4 separate regions of the Homo sapiens genome follow, and all the other regions are linked to region 1. The links come from fine-mapping of genetic effects on gene expression. A gene starts in region 1. Each other region holds a variant in brackets. All regions are shown on one strand. Distances are between the middles of the regions.

Evidence for each region.
Region 2: its variant is fine-mapped to the expression of NIPAL3 in blood mononuclear cells (TOPMed, PIP above 0.99).
Region 3: its variant is fine-mapped to the expression of NIPAL3 in whole blood (TOPMed, PIP above 0.99).
Region 4: its variant is fine-mapped to the expression of NIPAL3 in whole blood (TOPMed, PIP above 0.99).

What each region holds. Positions count from the first base shown.
Region 1 is chr1:24,413,582-24,418,581 of GRCh38, forward strand. NIPAL3 (NIPA like domain containing 3) reads left to right here and starts at 2,221. Exons shown (of 12, transcript NM_020448.5): 1 at 2,221-2,323. STPG1 (sperm tail PG-rich repeat containing 1) reads right to left here and starts at 201. Exons shown (of 9, transcript NM_001199013.2): 1 at 93-201.
Region 2 is chr1:24,469,789-24,475,050 of GRCh38, forward strand. It overlaps NIPAL3 (NIPA like domain containing 3), which reads left to right. Exons shown (of 12, transcript NM_020448.5): 12 at 1-3,188. Among named protein-coding and RNA genes, the nearest start is that of RCAN3AS, 30 kb to the right of the region's middle. The variant C/T (reference allele first, on the strand shown) is at 2,105.
Region 3 is chr1:24,448,376-24,453,375 of GRCh38, forward strand. It overlaps NIPAL3 (NIPA like domain containing 3), which reads left to right. Exons shown (of 12, transcript NM_020448.5): 6 at 1,106-1,251. Among named protein-coding and RNA genes, the nearest start is that of NIPAL3, 35 kb to the left of the region's middle. The variant T/C (reference allele first, on the strand shown) is at 2,780.
Region 4 is chr1:24,439,037-24,444,036 of GRCh38, forward strand. NIPAL3 (NIPA like domain containing 3) reads left to right here. Exons shown (of 12, transcript NM_020448.5): 3 at 1,136-1,204; 4 at 3,019-3,190. Among named protein-coding and RNA genes, the nearest start is that of NIPAL3, 26 kb to the left of the region's middle. The variant C/G (reference allele first, on the strand shown) is at 2,219.

The DNA.
Region 1 (5,000 bases):
CTCCGCGGGCGTCCCATGCGGAGGACATGGTGCGCCGTGTCCTCTTCCCCACGACCTCAGGGACCGGTCCCCCCGCCGGAACTGCTTCCTACCTGGTCCGGTCCCGGCAGCTGAATCTGGCCAGCCCAACCTCCCGGTCGCTATGGCACCCACAGGCCTAACATTCGCGAGTCCACCTTCCGCCGTCCGCGAGGTAACTCCAGCCAATGGCATCCTCTGTTTCTTTAACGTGAAAAGTTGTTGACCAATCATTAGAGGCGTTTCAAAGTCCGCAGAGAAGCCGGCCGAATTTTAGGGCTTAGGTTAATTACATCAGGGCCTGTAGCGGGGTGGGGAACTAATAAGAGGTTTATCTAGGCCATGCTTCAAAAATCTTGTGATAAACCAAAAGCCTCAGAATTTTGCTCACTCAAAAATCCTGCTTCAAGGAATATACCTAAAAGAATTAACATTCATCCAAGCCCTGTTTCTTTTTTTTTTGAGACAGAGTCTCGCTTTGTCGAGCAGGCTGTAGTGCAGTGGCGCAATCTTGGCTCACTGCAACCTCCGCCCTCCAGGTTCAAGCGATGCTCCTGCTTCAGCCTCCTGAGTAGCTGGGATTACCGGCGCTCGCCACCACGCCAGGCTATTCTTTTTGTATTTTTAGTAGAGACAGGGTTTCACCACGTTGGCCAGGCTGGTCTCGAACTCCTGACCTCAGGTGATCCACCCGCCTCGGCCTCCCAAAGTGTTGGGATTACAGGCGTGAGCCACCACGCCCGGCCCCAAGCCCTGTTTCTAACAGAAGAAAAAAAAAAAAATTGACATGGGCGACTATACAAGGGCAGCCACTTAGTATTCCAGGAGCCCCTCTTCACACGCTTCAGGGCAGGGCGGTCTCAGCGACCTTGTCACTCCCCTGCTTAAAGTCCTCCAATGGCTCGCCTTTAAATTTAGGGTGAAATCCAAGCTTTTTTTTTTTTTTTTTTTTTTTTGACAGGGTCTTGCTCTGTCGCCCAGCTGGAGTGCAGTGGCGCGATCTCGACTCGCTGCAACCTCCGCCTCCCGAGTTCAAGCGATCCTCCCGCCTCAGCCTCCTGAGTAGCTGGGACCACGGGCGCTCGCCACCACGCCCGGCTAATTTTTAAATTTTTTTGTAGAGATGGGGTCCCACTATATTGTCCAGGCTGGTCTCAAACTCCTGGGCTTAAGTGATCCTCCTGGCCTCCCAAAGTCCTGAGATTACAGGTGTGAGCCACCGCGCCGGCCCCCAAATATGTTATTTATAAACTGTCCCTGGCCCGTCCCTCAGATCGCAGGCCCAACCACGCCCCCAGAAAAATCTCTCACCAGCCCTGCTGGCCTTCGGGCAGTTTCTACAATGCACCAACTCGTTCCTCTCCCATGTTCCCAAGGAGCTTTCTCTGCCCCACGATCTGAGACTAGAACTGCCTCTTTCTCATTGTTGATGTCTAGGCCCAAATGACATTTCTTCATACGTAAAACGGGCTTCAAGTCTCACTCATGGCTGTGACGATCTGAAAGCAAATGCGTGTATATGACAACGTGTGAGCGATGAGAAGCTTGTCATCTGTAAAACTCCATGCGCATGTTAATTATCATGGCCGTGATAATTATGTACATTATAGAAACATTAACCAAGCGCTGGGCTCGTTTCAGGACCTTCAGTATTGCTGGGAGGCTTGGTATCCGACAGGTGTTCCAGGAGGGCAGGAAAGGAGAGATATGTTTGGTCCCAAGTCTCGCGAGGGCTCTGGGGAGCGCTGGGTCTTCAAGGACGTTTTGGATTTGAATACTTGGTGAGAGCGTCGGGTAGGGGAACAGCAGGAGCAAAGCCCGGAAGGTGGCTATGAGGATAAGAAGGGAGGACACCTGGCAGGCTGCTAAAACCAGGCCCACCTGCCGGGCAGGTGGAGGCGAGCAACCACCTAAGCTCTCTGGGACAGCGGGAGAGGGGGCAGGGGAGTCGCCGCACCATTCTTCCTGTGGCCGCTAGGGGGTCCCCGCTCCAGGTGAGCGCCAAGCTCTAGCCCCAGGTCGCTCCCTTATGCTTCAAGCAAGCTTTGCAGCGCAGCCAATTGCCAGGGGCTGTCCCGCCTACTCCCCGTCCTCGCAGCCACTTGCCTGCGCGAAATGCCTGCCAACTTCTGACTGGCAGGCAGTCTGGCAAATCAAATCGCGACCTTTGAAAGCAAAACACTGCAGCATCTTGGCAGCTCTGAATTGGGAAGGGATGAAGGAGGCTGTGCCTCCGGGTTGCACGAAGAGTCCGAGTCATTTCTCAGAAGGTTTTGATAGGTGGGCCTTAGAGGAGACGCCGCCGGTGAGTAGTGATTAACACCGGGAGGAAGGGGAATTGAATTTAACCTTCGTTTTTTTCTGGAAAAAGCGAAGTCACCTAACGTCCCCTAGTGTACATACCCTTCCTTCTTACTGTCACCAGCCTCGCCAACCTGGGTCCCGTTGCCTTGGAATGTTCTTTCCAGTTTTGCATCGAGGCCAAGAGGAGCGGGGGCATGGGCTACCTTACTAAAGGTGATGCCAGGCTCTACCAAACCAGGAAGTGACATGGAGTTAACTTTGCCAGAATTTCTCCTCTTCGTGCCGAGCGGCTCGGGCTTCCTGGCGGCAGCAGATGGTGGAGTTAGCAGGTGGGATGAGGGGAGGCGTTCTTGGTCTAAGCCCGCTTCTGGAACAGAGGTGCTGTCTCCTCGAGTTGTAAGTTTCCAGCTCAGTGGGACGGGACGGAAGAATGTAACCTTCTCGTGAGCCAAAGCCGAGGAACGGGAAGCTTGGCAGGGAACTGGCGCTCACCTCCAGAAGCCAGATCGTCGGGTGGTGGGAAAGAGCGTGTTTTATTGATTTGTTCAGAAAGAGGCAAATTCGAATACAGACGCTATGAGCCACGGCTGTCTCATTTGTAAAACGTGCTCTGTGGGATTGGTGAAATCCGTCATCGAGATAAACGGGGTGGGAATGGAAGCAGAGCACCTAGTGAATTCTCATTCCTTCCTTGGGTCAGTGACCACGTGCTCTAATTGTGGGGTGGTTGACAACGCAGAGGTGACTGCTTGCCTCTCGGGCATATGTAGGTCCTGAAGAAATGCTTCGAAATCAGGAAAAGAGAGTCACCAGGTGAAAAGTATGTGTCTTATAAGGGAGTACAGCTTGCAAAGGGTTCCTCCAGGCTTTCAGTCCGGACTCCCACCCAGCTGAGGGAGAGCCTTCAATCTTTGCAGGCGATGCTTCAGAGGCCTGCGAGTTCCTGAGGCAGAGAGGGAAGCTGCTTTTTAAAAGAAAAATTAAACCACAGCAATGCCAACCACCACAAACAAAAGCAAAACCAGAAAAGCACTTGGGCAAACTACTCTGAAGGATGTTAGGAGGCCTGGGTTCCCACCACTCCCTTGATTGACATGTCGCTAAGGTCTGTTGGCTTTCTCTGACCTCCTGTGGGTGGGGCTGAGTATATCTGCTTGTTGAAGCTCTGGAGTTGTGGTTGATTAGGCCTTAGAAAGGCATTCTTGACTGCGAAGGGGCCACAGTGCACCCAGTGCTTAACCAGCCTGCATTTAGTCAGTCGGTTGGTATGTATACAAGTCACTGTCAGGCTCTGGGCTAGATCTCATTTAGTCAGTTGGTTGGTATGTATAGAAGTCACTGTCAGGCTCTGGGCTAGATCTCAGCTGGGAGCAACTGAACAGGGTATTCCGCAAACACCTCACTGGAGTTTGCGCTCCTCAACTCCATGACTGCTTCATGGTTGAATGCTTCCCGGGGCCTCTCAGAGGTAGAAAGAACCCTGAGCCACTCTTAAGGCTCTTATGATTATTACAAATGCTAAAACATTTTTACAGAAATGTAACACAATAATGCTTTTCACATGTACGTGAAAGTATAGTGAACAATTATGCTTTCCACAAGATTGCAAACACATATTCATAGGGTTTTACAGGCAGGGAAGTCTAGCTATGGGATGTGAATTACCTGATAAAGTTACCCGGTGAATGCTTACATCTCATGTCTGTATATTGGATATATAACCTCGTCTGCAGGTAGTAGCAATAATTTCATCCTGAGGCCCTCTGACAAAGTGAAACCAAGCCAAATGGTTTCTGTAGCTGTCCCTATGCTAAACCTGCATTTGTTGTATCCCAGGACTGGACATGGTGTTCCCCTTATCACATATGTATGTGCTGTCCACACCATGAACCAGAATTCCTGGGCCTAGGGCCGGATAGCAGAAGGAACTGGAAGCTACAGGATACACAGGAGGCAGCTCTCTGAAGCCTCAGGGAGTGGCAGAAATTGTTTAGCTCACAGTGAGCCCTCAGTAAATATTTGTTGGATGAATGCATGAGAGAGAAAGGAATGGACAAAATAAATAATTAAACAGGAGAGAATAAAATTAATCTTAACAGCAGCTCACATTCATGGACCATTTGCTATGCCTGCATTTTACATGTATGATTTCATCAAATTCTCATGACTGCCATGTGGAGTGGGAACATTATTATCTATATTTCACAGCTGGAGAAACTGGCTGAAAAGTTAAATGACCTGGCAAAGGTAAAACAGGTAGCACATGGCACATCAAAAGCAATTTAAAACATTTTTCTATTAAAATAAACATAGACTATGCAGTAGAATACATTTCTAAAAAATGTATAAAAAGTCCTCAAAGAAAACCCTAACACTTTTAAGCAGGGTTTTGGCCATGCCTCCTAGGACACTAGAAGTATACTTTCTCTTCTCTGTTTGGTAGCAAATTTTGAGAAGTGGCACACACCTGTAATCCTAGCACTTTGGGAGGCTGAGGCAAGTGGACTGCTTGAGCCTAAGAGTTCAAGACCAGCCTGATAACATGGCGAAACCCTGTCTCTACAAAAAAATTAGCCAGGCCTTGTGGCACGCGTCTGAGGTCCCAGCTACTTGGGAGGCTGAGGGAGGATTGCTTGAGCCCAGCTTGAGGCCATGTTTGTGCCACTGCACTCCAGCTT
Region 2 (5,262 bases), 56 kb after region 1:
TCAAATTGGATCTACTCTGAAAACGAAACTTGGTTTTGGTCCTGTGAGGACTACTTGTTTGTCCACCTCCTCCACCAAAGGAATTAGGAAGTTAAGAGAAGGGGAAGAATATGGAGGATAGGAGAGGGTGATGATGCTTTAGCCCATTAAGGAAGAAAAGTTCCCCTTACTCTTACAAAAGGTGATTGCACCACTTAAAAAAGGATAGGTAGAAAATCTGGCCATTTTATGTGTTATTTTTTTCCTGCATACCAGTGCCCCCTGGAAAGATGGGGATGCTCATTTCAGAGACAGCCTCTTCACCTGTCCTCCGTCTCTCCATTACAGAGCCACAAGCCAAGCTTGAGTTACTGGTTAATTTCCTTGAAGTCAATAGAGACTCTCTGGGTCCTCATCCCCATGCATATATGTCTGGGAGAAGCAAGCATTCTCCAAAACAGGGCTGTTGCTTTCTTCCTGGCCGCATATGTGACTGTCTTCCCCTAGACTGATGGTATACTTTTGAGAGGGGCGGATAAAGGTTTGCAAACTTTAATGGGCATAAGGATCCCCTAGAAGCATATGTAAAATGCAGATTCCTGCACCCCAACTGCAGACACTGTTAAGTGGGACTGGAGTGGGGCCCACGGGTCTGCATTCTTAACTGGTACCACCAGTGATTCTGATGCGATGCTTCAATCCCGAGATTTCACATCTGGAAAGCCTAAGAATTTACAAAGATGTTCTGCTAAAACCCCCAGGGCCCCATGCAGTCTTGCTAGAAAATTTCCTCCCTAGGGTTCCTTTGGAAGGTTAAATACTCCCCATAGGATCTGTGGCATTTCTCCATCCAATGAATACTACTTAGAGCTACACTCACCACTTCCCTAGACAGCCTTTAATAGGCATGATAACAGTGTTAATAGACCAGTGTGATAGATCACTTATCTTTATGGATTGTGCTTAATACTGATTTAGTATCTTGACTCCAAAAACTGACATCTGTTGTCTGTGATAACCACTTCTGTATTGCGTCTTAACCACTTCTGTATTGTGTGGTCTTAACTGCCTAAGGCGGCAATGGGCAGTGGGCCCCTTTCCCTTAGGATGGGTATCAATTCAACAATATTTATAAGGCATTTACTGTGTGCTAAGCATTTGGAAGACCCAGGCTACAAAATAAGACATAGTTCCTGCCCTCCAGGCCAGCAGAGGGAGGCACAAATACCCAGGAATCTCTGATGGGTGTGAAGTGCGGTCGTGGGCCACAGAAAATGACCGTCATGGAGACCCTGCTAAAGGTCGGACCCTGAGCCCAAAGGGGTATTCAGAAGTGGAGATGATTTTGGCCCCACTCATAGATGGGTGGCAAATCTAAGATTTGTATAAAGCATATAAAATAGGGTGATCACCCCCGAGGCAGAGGGGCCAGCATTTGCAAAGGCACAGAGCTAAGAGGAGCTGGGCAAAGAAAGGAAAGCCAGGGAAGGTGGTGGGAGATGAGTCTCAAAGCTAAGTAGTGGAAGCTGGGCACAGTGGCTCATGCCTGCAATCCCAGCACTTTGGGAGGCCAAGGCTGGAGGATCACTTGAGCCCAGGAGTTTTATATCAGCCTGGGCAACATAGCAAGACCTCATCTCTGCTAAAAATTAAAAATAAATAAATTAGCTGGGTGTGGTGGTGCATGCCTGTGATCCTAGCTACTCAGGAGGCTGAGGTGGGAGGATCGCTAGAGCCCAGAGAGCCAAGGCTACAGTGAGCCATGATCATGCTACTGCACTCCAGCCTGGGTGACAATGAGACCATGGCTCAAAAAAAAAAAAAAAAAAAAGATAAGCAGTGGAGGCCGAATCATGGAGGGTCTTGAATACCTGGCTAAGGAGTTTAAAGTGTATCCAAGAGGACGTGGGAGCCACTGATGGTTCATGAGGAAGAGAAGGGCAGGACCAGCACTGATTGAAAAGGAGGGCTTGTTCAGTGTGGAGGAAGAATCAGAAGGGGGAATAAGTTACCTTCTCCGAGCCTGCAAGAACAAAAAACAAAAAGCAGAAATTAAAATCAGGTTTCACTGCTATTTATATATTTCTCCTTTCCCAAATGATTTTTCTAAAGCTGGGAGTGGAGG[C/T]AGGAGGGAGAAACAGAAGGTGAGCAGGGAGGCTATTTAGATGTGTCAAACCCGGGTGATCATTAATAATTTGGGCATATATATGCTCCCAAACTTACTCTGCCCCCTTCCTTCCCTTTTTTTTTTTTTTTTTTGGTATGGGCCTTTTAGGCTTGGGCCAGCCAGCTTTCTTGAGATGAGTGAATAAAAGCGTATTGTAATTTCATGTCTGCTTCAGATCATGGGGACAGTGCCACCCAGGAACTGCTGCTGAGGCCTGGGAAGCTCCCTTGCCTTCGGGTTTGGAGCAGTGGCATCATCCCACCAACCTGAGCCATGAAAGGGCTGAGCAGAAAGTTAAATGGTAGTTTCCTGACTGGAAGCCACACGTAGGTCACTTGAGTAGTCAGGAAGCACAGTGGGTGTGGAGCCATCATCTGTCTTGGGCTGGTTCCTCCCAATCTTTGTCCAGTGGTATAAATGGACTGTCTGCTGATGGCCATACGCAGCACTGGCTGTTAAGATGGGGAAGGGGTACATCAGGATTCCACTCATAGCCCTGGTTCGTTATTGTTACTCATGGCTCTGACGTCCCCAAGCCCTCTTGAATGTTGCAAGCAATGTTAAATATCACACCTCGGTCTCCTTTTGAGCAGCCCAGGTACCTAAAGCAAGGTCACCAAACTTGGGTTTAAACTTCAGTTGCCATCACAGCAGGGTTCAGGTTATGCAGTTTTTGCAGTGTGGAGTTGAACGCTGGGTAAAGAAGGGAGAGCTGACTCTCCATTGCTTTTCTAGTGGAAACCAGCCAGTTTGACGGCACGGTGCGGATACAGGACTCCATCAGGCTAGTGTTGGGGAACCAGCCCGGCAGCCTTCCATGTGAATTCCAAAGCTGTTTCAACACTGGCTGATAGGCAGACAAAAGGTTACTTGTGTGTTTCTCTGAGAAGCGGTGTAAATGAAGTCACCTTAGAATATATTCTGTGCGGATGCTTATATTTTGTTAACTTCACGACTTATGGCATGTCTTATTTAAAAAAAAAAAAGTACTAGGTGCAAATAACATTATGAAGTGGTATTTAATTAAAAATCCATGCAGTGACAGCTGAGTTCGTGTCTTATGTTTGGCTAATACTTCCTAGAATTATCTAGAACAGTACTGTCTAGTAGAACTTTCTGCGATGATGGAAGTGTTCTATGTCTATGCTGCCCAACATGGTAGCCACTCTCCACAGGTGGCTGTTGAACACTTTAAATGTGGCTAGTGCAACCAAGGAACTGAATGTTTAATTTCATCTAATTACATTTCCATATAGTTCGTATATTAACAGTACAGATCTAGAGATGCCCATTATTGCAGCTGAGGCTCACTTGAGCTTCCCCTGCAACCTTCACCGTGGTTAAAAGCACAGACTCTTGGCCAGGCACGGTGGCTCATGCCTGTAATCCCAACACTTTGGGAGGCTGAGGCAGGCAGACCACCTGAGGTCAGGAGTTTGAGACCATCCTGACCAACATGGAGAAACCCCGTCTCTGCTAAAAATATAAAATTGGCCAGGCATGGTGGCACGTGCCTGTAATCCCAGCTACTCGGGAGGCTGAGGCAAGGAGAGTCCCTTGAACCTGGGAGGTGGAGGTTGCGGTGAGCCAAGATTGCACCATTGCACTCCAGCCTGGGCAACAAGAGGGAACAAGAGTGAAACTCCATCTCAAAAAAAAAAAAAAAAAAAGCACAGACTCTCTGTCTACACTGCTTGGATTTGATTCCTCTCTCACCTGTTAGCTGTGTAGCATTGGGCAGGTTACTTAACCTGTCTGTGCTTCATCTGTGAAACAGGAATAACAGCATTATTAAGGATTGTTTTAGGATTGGATGGGTTAATAGATGTAAAGTCTTAGAACTATATTGAGCATCCCATCAAGGCATTGTATTATATTGAAACAATGGGGTTTTTTTCTCTTTATTCTTTTTTAAATTATATAATGAACACTTTTGATCTTAAGTATTTCTAAGCACATATGTCTCTTCATTCCAAGTTTCCAATTTGCAAAGGCAGGTGTAGTATGGTACCTATATATTTATTTGTACAGTCACAAAAATAAAATACAGAGTCATATATACATACTCATATATTAAGCACTTACTGTATGCCACATGATATATTAAGACCTCATATTTATATCTCATTTCTCCTTTATAAAAGTTCCATGAGGTAAATTTTAATCATATCCTTTTACAGATGAAGAAACTGAGACTGACTGGGCATGGTGGCTTATGCCTGTAATGCCACCACTTTGGGAGGCCAAGGTAGGAGGATCACTTGAGCTCAGCAATTTGAGACCAGCCTGCACAACATAGCAAGACCCCATCTCTACTAAAAAAAAAATTAAAAATTAAAATAAAAATTAGCAGGCATGGTGGTGTGTGCCAGTAGTCCCAGCTACTCAGGAGGCTGAGGTGAAAAGATTGCTTGAGCCCAGGAGACTGAGGCTGCAGTGAGCCATGATTGCACCTCTGCATTCCAGCCTGGGCAACAGAGCAAGACCCTATCTCAAAAAGAAAAGAAATTGAGACTCAGGTCTCATAGCTGGTGAACAGCAGAGCCAGTATTTGAGCCCAGGACTGCCTGACTCCAAAACCTGAGCTCTTCCCTCACTGTGCTGCCTCTCCTGGTGTGGGCAAACAGGATTTTAATGGGAGTAAGGTCTGCCATGGGTTAGGACATCACCTTTGGCCCAGTTTCAAAGGAAGGTGCAGACTTGAAGGACAGAAGCTCATTAGCTGAGTCTCTGGGGACCACGTTTGCAATGGTCCCACCTGCAAACCAGATGAGGGAATAAAATTCAGTCTACCGGCCAGGTGCGGTGGCTCACGCCTGTAATCCCAGCACTTTGGGAGGCTGAGGCAGACAGATCACAAGATCAAGAGATCAAGACCATCCTGGCCAACATGGTGAAACCCCGTCTCTAATAAATATACAAAGATTAGCTGGGCGTGGTGGTGCACGCCTGTAGTCCCAGCTGCTTGGGAGGCTGAGGCAGGAGAATCGCTTGAACCCAGGAGGCAGAGGTTGCAGTGAGCCAAGACTGTGCCATTGCACTCCAGCCTGGCCACAGAGTGAGACTCCATCTCAAAAAAAAAAAAAAAAAAAAAAAAATTCAGCCTTTCAGAGACC
Region 3 (5,000 bases), 35 kb after region 1:
ACCTGGACCACTAACAGTTCTCTGACAGGTCTGTGGCGTAGAATATTGATAGTAATTATATAGTTATTATATAGTTCCCTTGGCGTTAGGTTAAATAGCCAGTTGAGAAAGGATGAGGTAATTTTTAAAAGGTACGTGTTGAGCTCTGAAGGTTTGCCTTTATGTTTTATTTTATTTGTTTTTTTAGTTTGCCCATAAAGTGATTTTAGCTTTAAAATGTTACCTGTAAAATGCACATTAAAATCACAGTGCAATACCATCATGGCTAAAATGAAAAAGACAAAATGTAAGTGTTGACAAGAATGTAACTAGAACTGTCTTACTCTACTGGTGGGAGTGTAAATTGGTACAGCCACTGGGGAAAAACATTTGACACTAACTACCAAACTGAACATCCACATATCCTATGGAGGAATTCCACCTCTCATTTTATACTCAACAGAAATGCATACATGTGTTTCTCAAATGACATGTACGAGAATGTTCACAGCAACATTATTTTTTATAACTCCAGGCTGGAGACTCCTCAAAAGCCCCCCAGCAGTAGAATGGATAAATTGTGTTGTATTCACACAGTGGACCACTGTACACAGTGAGAACGAATGAACTGCCACTGTGCCCCACAACGCAGACGAATCTCAGAAACATCATGCTGAGTCAAAAGAGATCACACCGTATGGGTCCATTTGTATAAAGCACAAAGCTAGGCAAAGCCATCAGTGCTGTTACAGGTCAAGATAGTGTAACCCTGAGGGTGGGGTCTAGTAATCAATTTCACAAATGAGAAATTTCAGTATCTGGCTAATGTTCTCTTTCTCCATCTGGGAGCTGGTTTCATGAGTGTGTTCACTTTGGGAGAATTCCTCAAGCACTTTTTGTATGCATGTTATACTTCATTAAAGTTTTTTATTTTTTTACATTAATTGTTTTTTTAACAAAATTAAGGAAAATCATTTATTTTTTAAAGTAAAGAAAAACCAAAAATACAAACAATACCAGGTCATGGTATGTTGCAGGAGAAGCCTGTTTTTTCATGGCTGAGAACGTGTACTGTATCTTGGGCCTGTTGTTGCAATGAGTCCGTGACAGCCTCTCTTCCCCGCAGGGCGCTACGTCTTGTCCTTTGTTGGCTGCGGTTTGGCTGTCGTGGGTACCTACCTGCTGGTGACATTCGCACCCAACAGTCACGAGAAGATGACAGGCGAGAATGTCACCAGGCACCTCGTGAGCTGGCCTTTCCTTTTGTACATGGTAAGAGAAGCCTCCAGTCGTTCCCCCTGAGATGGCAGGAGGGAGATCAAGTCCTAGAAACCAGAAACGTGAATACCCAGCAATAGGGGATTCCGTGAGTTGCGGCACATTTTACCAGCATGAAAGACCGTGCTTCTGGAGAGTACACAGCTCATGGCGAAATGCTTGTTTCATTTATGTAATATCAAAACTCTACTGGTGGGAGTGTAAATTGGTACAGCCACTTGGGAAAAACATTTGACACTAATTACCAAATTGAATATCCACATATCCTATGGAGGAATTCCACCCCTCATTTTATACTCAACAGAAATGCATACATGTGTTTCTCAAATGACATGTATGAGAATGTTCACAGCAACATTATTTTTTATAACTCCAGGCTGGAGACTCCTCAAGTGCCCCCCAGCAGTAGAATGGATAAATTGTGTTGTATTCACACAGTGGATCACTGTACACAATGAGAACGAATGAACTGCCACTGTGCCCCACACAGTAATATCAAAACCATTATGATGTCAGTTTTATTTTTTAGAGGTGTGTATAGGTATGTGGTCATGTAATATACCTAGGAAGGCCTGGATGGGAAAGCAAATTCCATCAGTAGTTGGCTCTGGGAGATAGTGTTATGACTCAGTTCTTATTTCCTCTTCATCTTTATGAATTGTCCAAAATTTCTACAGTAACCATTTCAAACTTTTATGGTAAGGGGAAGAAAAAGTTAAAACTGTAAACCATTTAAGAATGTTATTTTATTTTTTTTCCCAGTATCACACTGCTGATAGAAGCCCAGGAGACACGGGAAATTTTGTCTCCTAACCCCTCCGCCAGAGCTCAGTCCTCTGCCCCAGTTCTATCCCATTTTAAGTCTATAAATCAACTGATTAAGGAAAACATCTAAAGTATGTGATAAAGCTACTGGTACGTTCTTGTTCCATGCCCTGCGCTGTGCTAAACACATTTTTATGTATCATCTCAGATTCTCTTAACCCTGTAAAGTAAATGTTCTTCCCATTTTATGGGTGAGAAAACCAGGGCTCTGAGAGGTTAGCTGACCTGCTCAGAGTTCATAAAAGCAGGGTTGGATTTGAAGGCCGGGCCCACCTGGCCTCAGGTGCCATCTTCCTTCCCCGTGGCCTGCCGACAAAGGTGTTCACTGTTTTCCTCTGACATAAACAGCCTGGTCTCTGATTGAGTCTAGAGGCCCTGGAACATCCTTTTTCCTCAGATTATCCACAAGGCAGAGGATCACTTCCCCTGAAATGGGGGCTGTGTCATTTCCCAACAGGCAGCCAGCCCCAGCATGTAGTTGGTGACAGAGCAAAAGACCGCCTCCTTGGGCAAAGCGTTACCCCAGAACAGGCCTTTCACTCAGAGGATTGAAGCCCAAGACTTCCTAAGTGCTGTGTGGCCTTAGCCAAGTCGCTTTCCTTCTCTGTTTCCCTCTCTGTAAAGTGGCAAGAATCTCTGGACTTAAAATTGCTATTGGGAGATCCAGGAAGTAGCATTTAAGTCACCCAGAAGGTGG[T/C]AGATGCTCAGTGAATGATTCTGTTGTCTTACTTCATCATGACTGGGAGGCAGTGCTGCCAGCTGGAGAGATTTGGCCAAACCAAATTCAGTCAATATTTATTGAGCGTCTGCTGTGTGCTAGACACTATGGTTATAAAAAATAAATGAGACATGCCCACAGTACTCACGGACTGTTGGGAGGCACCACATATGCACAGCCATCTCATGATATAATGTCCAGTGCTATTCCAGTGTTCATTTTAGAATCATGGAGAACGGGCCACATGTGGTGGCTCACACCTATAATCTCAGCACTTTGGGAGGCCGAGGTAGGAGGATTGCTTGAGCCCAGGAACTTGAGACCAGTGTGGGCAATGTGGCAAAACCCCGTCTCTATTTGGAAAAAAAAAAGTAAAAATTAGCCAGGTGTGGTGATGCATGCCTGTATTACCAGCTACTAAGGAGGCTAAGGTGGGAGGATAGCTTTGAGCCCTGGAGGTCAAAGCTGCAGTAAGCCATGATCACAGTACTGCACTCCAGCCTGAGTGACACAGTGAGACCCTGTCTCAAAAAAAGAAAAAGAAAAAAAAAATCATGGAGAATGGCTGAAGAATTGGGACCCCTCAAATGCAGGCACAGTGGTTGGGAATGTTGATGATTGACAGCACATCCACTTGATGAAGTATTCTGCAGCAATTAAAGATAATTATGACAACTTCACAAAACATGAAGATTGTTTATGGTAACTAAAAACAGCCCAGTACAAAATCGTGCATTGACTATAATGACAACTCGTTAAAATATGGATTCACTGGAACAAAGACAAAGAAGAAACGGGGAAATGAAAGCAGCTGTGTTTTATGGTCTCTAATTAGAAGGAATGTTTTAAATGTTTCAAAATGCCCATTAATGTTTCTGGGTTTTTTTTATACTAAATCAGCTTTGATAAGGGGTTTGGGATAGGCAAATGAGACTAAGCTGTTGTCAAAGTTTTCTGCTTTAGTTGCACTGGGCGCTAGGGCTGGCTTAACTTCTTGGGAAAGTGTTAGCAAATATCTGGGCTTTTAAGGGGTAGAAAGGAACAGTTGTTGATGCAAGGAGGGGGAGCTTCTCAAACTCGGACTTGCCATCGTCTAGTGGTAAGTTTCTACTGATAGAGCACCAGACAGTGTGGCCTAGCAGGAAAGTGCATGGGCCTGGGAGCCAGACTGTCCAGGTTTAAATTCCTCTGTGCCACGCCATCGTGGTAGTACCTGCTTCGTAGAGTTATTGTGCTGATTTAGTGAGTTTAACGTAGATAAAATGCTTAGAACACTGCCTGGCGTACAAGGAGACGTCATTTAGTGTAAGCTATGATTATGGGCCCATAAAAAGAATTCTTAACCCTACTCCACAGAGGGTTAACTAAGGTTTAGAGAAGTTAAGTGACTTACCCAAGGCCACACGACTAGTTTAGAGGCAGACCTAAGTTCCAGCCCAGGTCTCCCTGACTCCAAAGGCCTTCCTCATTCTACTCTGTGAAGCTTCACACTGGAAGCTTGGCTGGGAGCACAGGGAGTATATACTCATATTCTTTATTTATGTATTTATTTATTTTTTTGAGATGGAGCCTCGCTCTGTCTCCCAGGATGGAGTGCAGTGGCGTGATCTCAGCAATTCTCCTGCCTCAGCCTCCTGAGTAGCTGGGATTATAGGCAGATGCCACCACGCCCAGCTAATTTTTTTTTTTTTTTTTTTTGTATTTTTAGTAGAGACCGGGTTTCACCATGTTGGCCAGGCTGGTCTCGAACTCCTGACTTCAGGTGATCCACCCGCCTTGGCCTCCCAAAGTGCTAGGGTTACAGGTGTGAGCCACCGTGCCTGGCCTCACATTCTTGACCAAATAGGTTGGTGAACAAGTGTCTCCCTCTTGGACCAACCCATTGTTTTAATGGGGATGCCCATGGAGCAGTGGAGTGGGAAGAAACCATCTCAGCCTGATGCATCTTGGCCCTCCAAGAAAGAGTGGATATGAGAGCAGCACGTCACCCTCAAAGCTTCAGCCTCAGGACAACAGGGAATTCCTTCTCAGTACTAGCCAGGGATTAGAGAGATTCACTCTGTGTTTCCCTTTTCCCCTGAACGTCTAACAGTAGTTTGGGAAATGCTGAATCATAGCTCAGTCATTCCCTTTCAACCCTGTGACTCTGGTGATGGCCCAGCCCACCAGGGTCTCCCGGTCTCGCCTACTTCTGTGGTCC
Region 4 (5,000 bases), 25 kb after region 1:
CCAAAACGGGGAGGGGTGGGGGTGAGAGTTGAAAAATTACCGATTGGGTACTGTGTTCACTTATTTGGGTGATGGGTTCACTAGAAACCCAAACCTCAGCATTACACAATTTACCCATGTAACACACCTGCCCATTTACCCCGACTCTAAAATAAAGTTAAATGAAAAATTAATAATAAAGGAAACAGCCTAAATATCCAGTAATAGCAAAGCAATGATATAAAATATGGCACATCCAAAAATAATGAGTTATTTGACATTTAATAAAAATGACAAATTAGGTATGCCTGACAGGGAAATGTGCTCACAATATGTTAAGTAAAAAAACAGATTATAAAACAGATGGTAATCTTATTTTTATAAAGTAAATTAACATTTCCATTGATATGTAAATTTATGGACAGAAAAATGTTTGCAGGAATAAGAACCAAAATGTTTATAGTCATTATCTCTGGGTTATAGAATTAAAAGTGACTTTTCTATTATGGTGGTGTTGTTATTGTTATTTTTTTCATTTTTTTCTCATGCTACCTTGTCTAAGATATTATTATTTTTATCTATATATATTTCCTATTTAGTCTACAATGAATATATGTTTGGTAATCATTTTAGAAAGTACAAAATTCCGTGCCAGGTAGTCTGAACCTAACTCATAGGTGATGTAAATTAACTTTTTATAAATTGAGTAATTGACAATGCCCTAAGCAAGTGAGCCAGTTAAAAGAGTTTCATTGAAACCCTCTGGGAAATTGAAGACACTATTGACAAGATAGCAAAAAGTATTCTCTGGCCTATATTTCTCTTGTAAATTCTGATTTTGGAATGTTGCTTTTCTGCACAAGATGGTGGCAAGTTAATACTTTAAAGGGAATAGCACAGCAGGTTTAGACCTTGTCAGGTCAGTGTGATCGGGCCACCAAAGTATCCAATTCAGGGCAGCATTTTGTAAACCAGCAAAGCAGCCAGATTAACCTTCAGTAGTAACATTCCAGTTGTGGGTCTGGAGTGTGGCTTTGTCACTGATATTGTTTTTCTGGTTTTGTTTTGGGGCAGCAAATGGTTGAGTGTCAGAAGTGTCCTGGGGCCCCCTGGCTTGTGCCCAAATCATGTCCACTCCTGTGAACTTTCCTTACAGGAAAACCTGATTGGCGCCCTCTTGGCGATCTTCGGGCACCTCGTGGTCAGCATTGCACTTAACCTCCAGGTAAGTTTCAGTTACCAGCACTGTCTGGGGACAGAGACACAGCAGACAAGTCAGGGTGTCTTATCCAGGTCCAGCTGCCTCCTCTCTGCAGGGCCTTGCCTACTGCATCCCTGGGCTGCACCTGGGACAATACCTTGTGGGCCGTTCCAGGATTTCTCTTGATTCAGTGGCCCCACTCCATCCCGCCCTCGCCCTCCTAGCCAGGTCCTCACTGTCTCTCCTTGGGCTTTGCAGTGACCTCCTGCTAGCTTCTCTGGCTCTGGTCTCATCCCTCTTTGCCTTGCTGCAAAGCTGCTGGAATTACCATAGTTTTGTCAAATTCAACTCTAATTACAGCACTGTTCATTACTTAAAAGCCTCAGGGATGCCCTCTACAGCTGCTGTGGATCCCCCCACTGACCTCCAAATCCCCTCGGCCTGTCTGAGTTCACAAGCAGCTGTGGTGTGTAGCAAGTTGATAGCTAATGAGCTTCTCATGGGGGCACCAAGGAGCTGGTGTTACTGGCATGCAGGCACAGTTGGGGTGTGCACTGGGGGAGCAGGACGTTAATGCCCCTGGAGGCTGCCTTCTGCCAGCAGGGGTGGGAGGCAGGGAATAAATGCCCCAGGCTCTTATCCTCTGCTAGGATGATTCTAAGGTGAGATTCACAGGGTTTTTCAGAGGGTCCCCTGTGGGACTGAGTCCCAGTTGCCCACGGGACTAATCCGCTCATGAATGCACCTTTCATCTCTGTTCCCTGCCTCACTTTCCCCTTCCCTTACTCGTGCTCCCTGGAATTATCTCATACAGACTACCTGCTCCCACATTCTTGTCTCAGGGACTGCTTCTGGGAAACCCAGATAAGACTTGGTACCTGCTAACAGGATGAATCCCACAGCACACTGGCCGGCTTCACTCCACCAGCACTGCCCAGCTTCTGCCTGCAGTGAACTGCTCTCCCTCCCTGGAGCAGGCAGGAGACTGTGATCCCTGTGGGCACACACTTGTGCCTTGTTCACCTGTACTCTATGCAT[C/G]TCAGCTCTGGGATGTGTATGTTTCTGTGTGTCGCTGAGACCACGTGGTCTCTTAGCTACTTGTCTGGTTCATTCTCTTCTTTCTCCAGGGCAGCATCTCTGGTTGTTTATCTGCTTCTGGGCAGCCCACATCATGATCCTCCCCAAATGGCAGACTTGGCCCTCTAAGTCAACATGACTTTCTAGCCTGCTTTAGTTACTGCTTCAGTTTCGATGTCCCAGGTTCACATTTCCCCCCAAAAAAGAATATTGACCATGCTTGAGCCACGTATCCACCCCAGGGAGAGCAAGGCCCACTGATACCCACACAACTGCCCAGCGAGAGCTGCTGGCATGTAGACAGGAAGGAGTGTGCCGAACACACAGTCATCCAAACGTGGGGAATCCTGGAAACTGCAGAGAGAGGGAGGAGGTCGACCCAAGGGCCAGGCCAAGTGGGATCTTTAGACTATGGCTCCCACCCTGAGACTGCATTGCCTGTGACGTGCATTAGAAATGCCTGTTTTCAGGCTCATCCACACCTCTCCGAGACTGACTCAGGATGAGGCCCAGGTGGGTATTTTGACAGAGCTTCTCAGGGGATTATAAGGATTCCCAGCCTGTTGGAGAGCTACTGTCCTAGAATTTAGATCTAGTATTTAGATCCCCACTGTCTTACTCTTCTCTGAGTCAGGACTCCACAAGAACCTGACAAGTCTTCCCAATTTATTTGCAAGTTGGGGGTGGATTTAGGGTACCTACATCATAGCATTTTTTTCCCCAAACATCTGAGCAAATTGCATTATTTCTCGGGTTTCTAGAAGTACTGCCACATCCGCCTGGCAGGCTCCAAGGATCCCCGGGCCTATTTCAAGACCAAGACATGGTGGCTGGGCCTGTTCCTGATGCTTCTGGGCGAGCTGGGTGTGTTCGCCTCCTACGCCTTCGCGCCGCTGTCACTCATCGTGCCCCTCAGCGCAGTTTCTGTGATAGGTAAGACCAGGGCTGCCCCACCCTCCCCTGGGGTGCTCCCAGCTGCGTGACCAGAGTGCCAGCGCCAGGATCAAAGGTGCCCATTGAACAAACCAGCTTTAGCTTGGATAATAATAGCCTAATACAAAGGGCTTCAGACACACCAGGCCCTGTAAGTGCTTACAGATATTAATTCTGCTAATCCTCCAGCCACCTGTTGAGGGAGATGTTGTTGTTATCCCCATTTAACAGATGAGGAAACTGAGGCACGGGGTAATGAAATTACTTTCCCCAAATGACACAGCTAGTGAGTAACAGGGCTGGGATATGAACTGGGCTGTCTGGCTCCAGGTTCTGTTTAAGATTCAGAAGGCTTATTAGAATTGCTTTTTATTTCTAAAAGAAGAAGGAAGATAAACCTTAACCCATGCATCTTTTCACCATCAAGATACATTAAGCTTGTCACTGAGTGCAGTGGCTTGTACCTGTAATCCCAGCTACTTGGGAGGCTGAAGTGGGAGGATCGCTTGAGGCCAGGAGTTTGAGACCAGCCTGGGCAACATGGAGAGACCCCATCTCTACAAAATGAAACAAACAAACAAAAAAGAAAAACAATTAGCTGGGCATGGTGGTATGCATCTGTGGTCCTAGCTACTTGGGAAACAGAAGCAGGAGGATCCCTTAAGTCCAGTGTTTGAGTGCTGCAGTGAGCTTTGATTACACAATTGCACTCCAGCCTGGGTGACAGAGCAAGACCTCATCTATTGAAAAAACAAATTAAGCTTTTGTAGGGTTTGGGGCCAGGCCAGGCTGGTCTCAAATTCTTGAGCTCAAACTATCTGCCTGCCTTTCCTCCCAAAGTGCTGGGACTACAATTGTAAGCCACCACACTGGCCATTAACTTTCTCATCTGCCAGCTTTCTGTGATTTCTGTAATCACTGAACCAGTGTTTCAGAACATTTGAACCAACTAAAAGACAAGGGAGCTTTAATGTTCATGAGAACACAAGCAAAACAGAATTAGAAAAAAAAAATTCTTCTTAAAGAAAAGATGTTAGTAGATTAGTGAACAATAGCTTTTTTTGTGTGCATAGCAGCCAGGACAATGAACTTGCTTTGAAATATTTCTTTCCATTTTGCTGGCAAGCACTACTCTGCCCAGATGCTCTGCTCTGCTCTTAAAGGAGAAAGTCATATTTTGGGTCTTATTCCTCCTTGAGTTAAGAGGTTCTCTTCTATGCAAGGGATGGCAGATGCATGGTAACTATGTGCCCCTCCCTTGCTGTGCTCAAGGCAGACATCGTTAATCAATCATGGCATTCCTTCCTAGAGAGCATAGATGGGGCCTCAGAATTCTCAGTGCTTCCAACAGTCACTACCAATCACCAGGAGTTGGCAAGGGAGCAGAAACCTATTTACTTTCCCTGATCCTGTTATAAGTCCCGGTTTTTCCTAACCAGGGTTGCTGAACTGGCAGCTTGCAAAGTGAATGAGGTCCTCAGACATGGTGTGTGTTTTTTCCCACACAGTACTTTTTTAATGTAATTTGAATGTCTTTAGCTGAGGCAAGTAGTTTGCCAGAGTCTCAGCCTTTCCCTGTTGTCTTACTTCCAGACCATTTTCTATATTTGTGTTCTGTTACTCCCCAGCCCCTGTATGTGATCATACCTGTAGCCTTATCACTCTGCTCTGCCCACTGCAGGTATCTCCAAAGGGCTCCCAAACCTTTTTCACAATGAGAAATAAGTGTCTAAGTGACTGGTGCTTTAAATATTAGTCTTCGAATTTTAATAAGGTTCAAATAACCAAATTCTTTTTTTTTTTTAAAGAG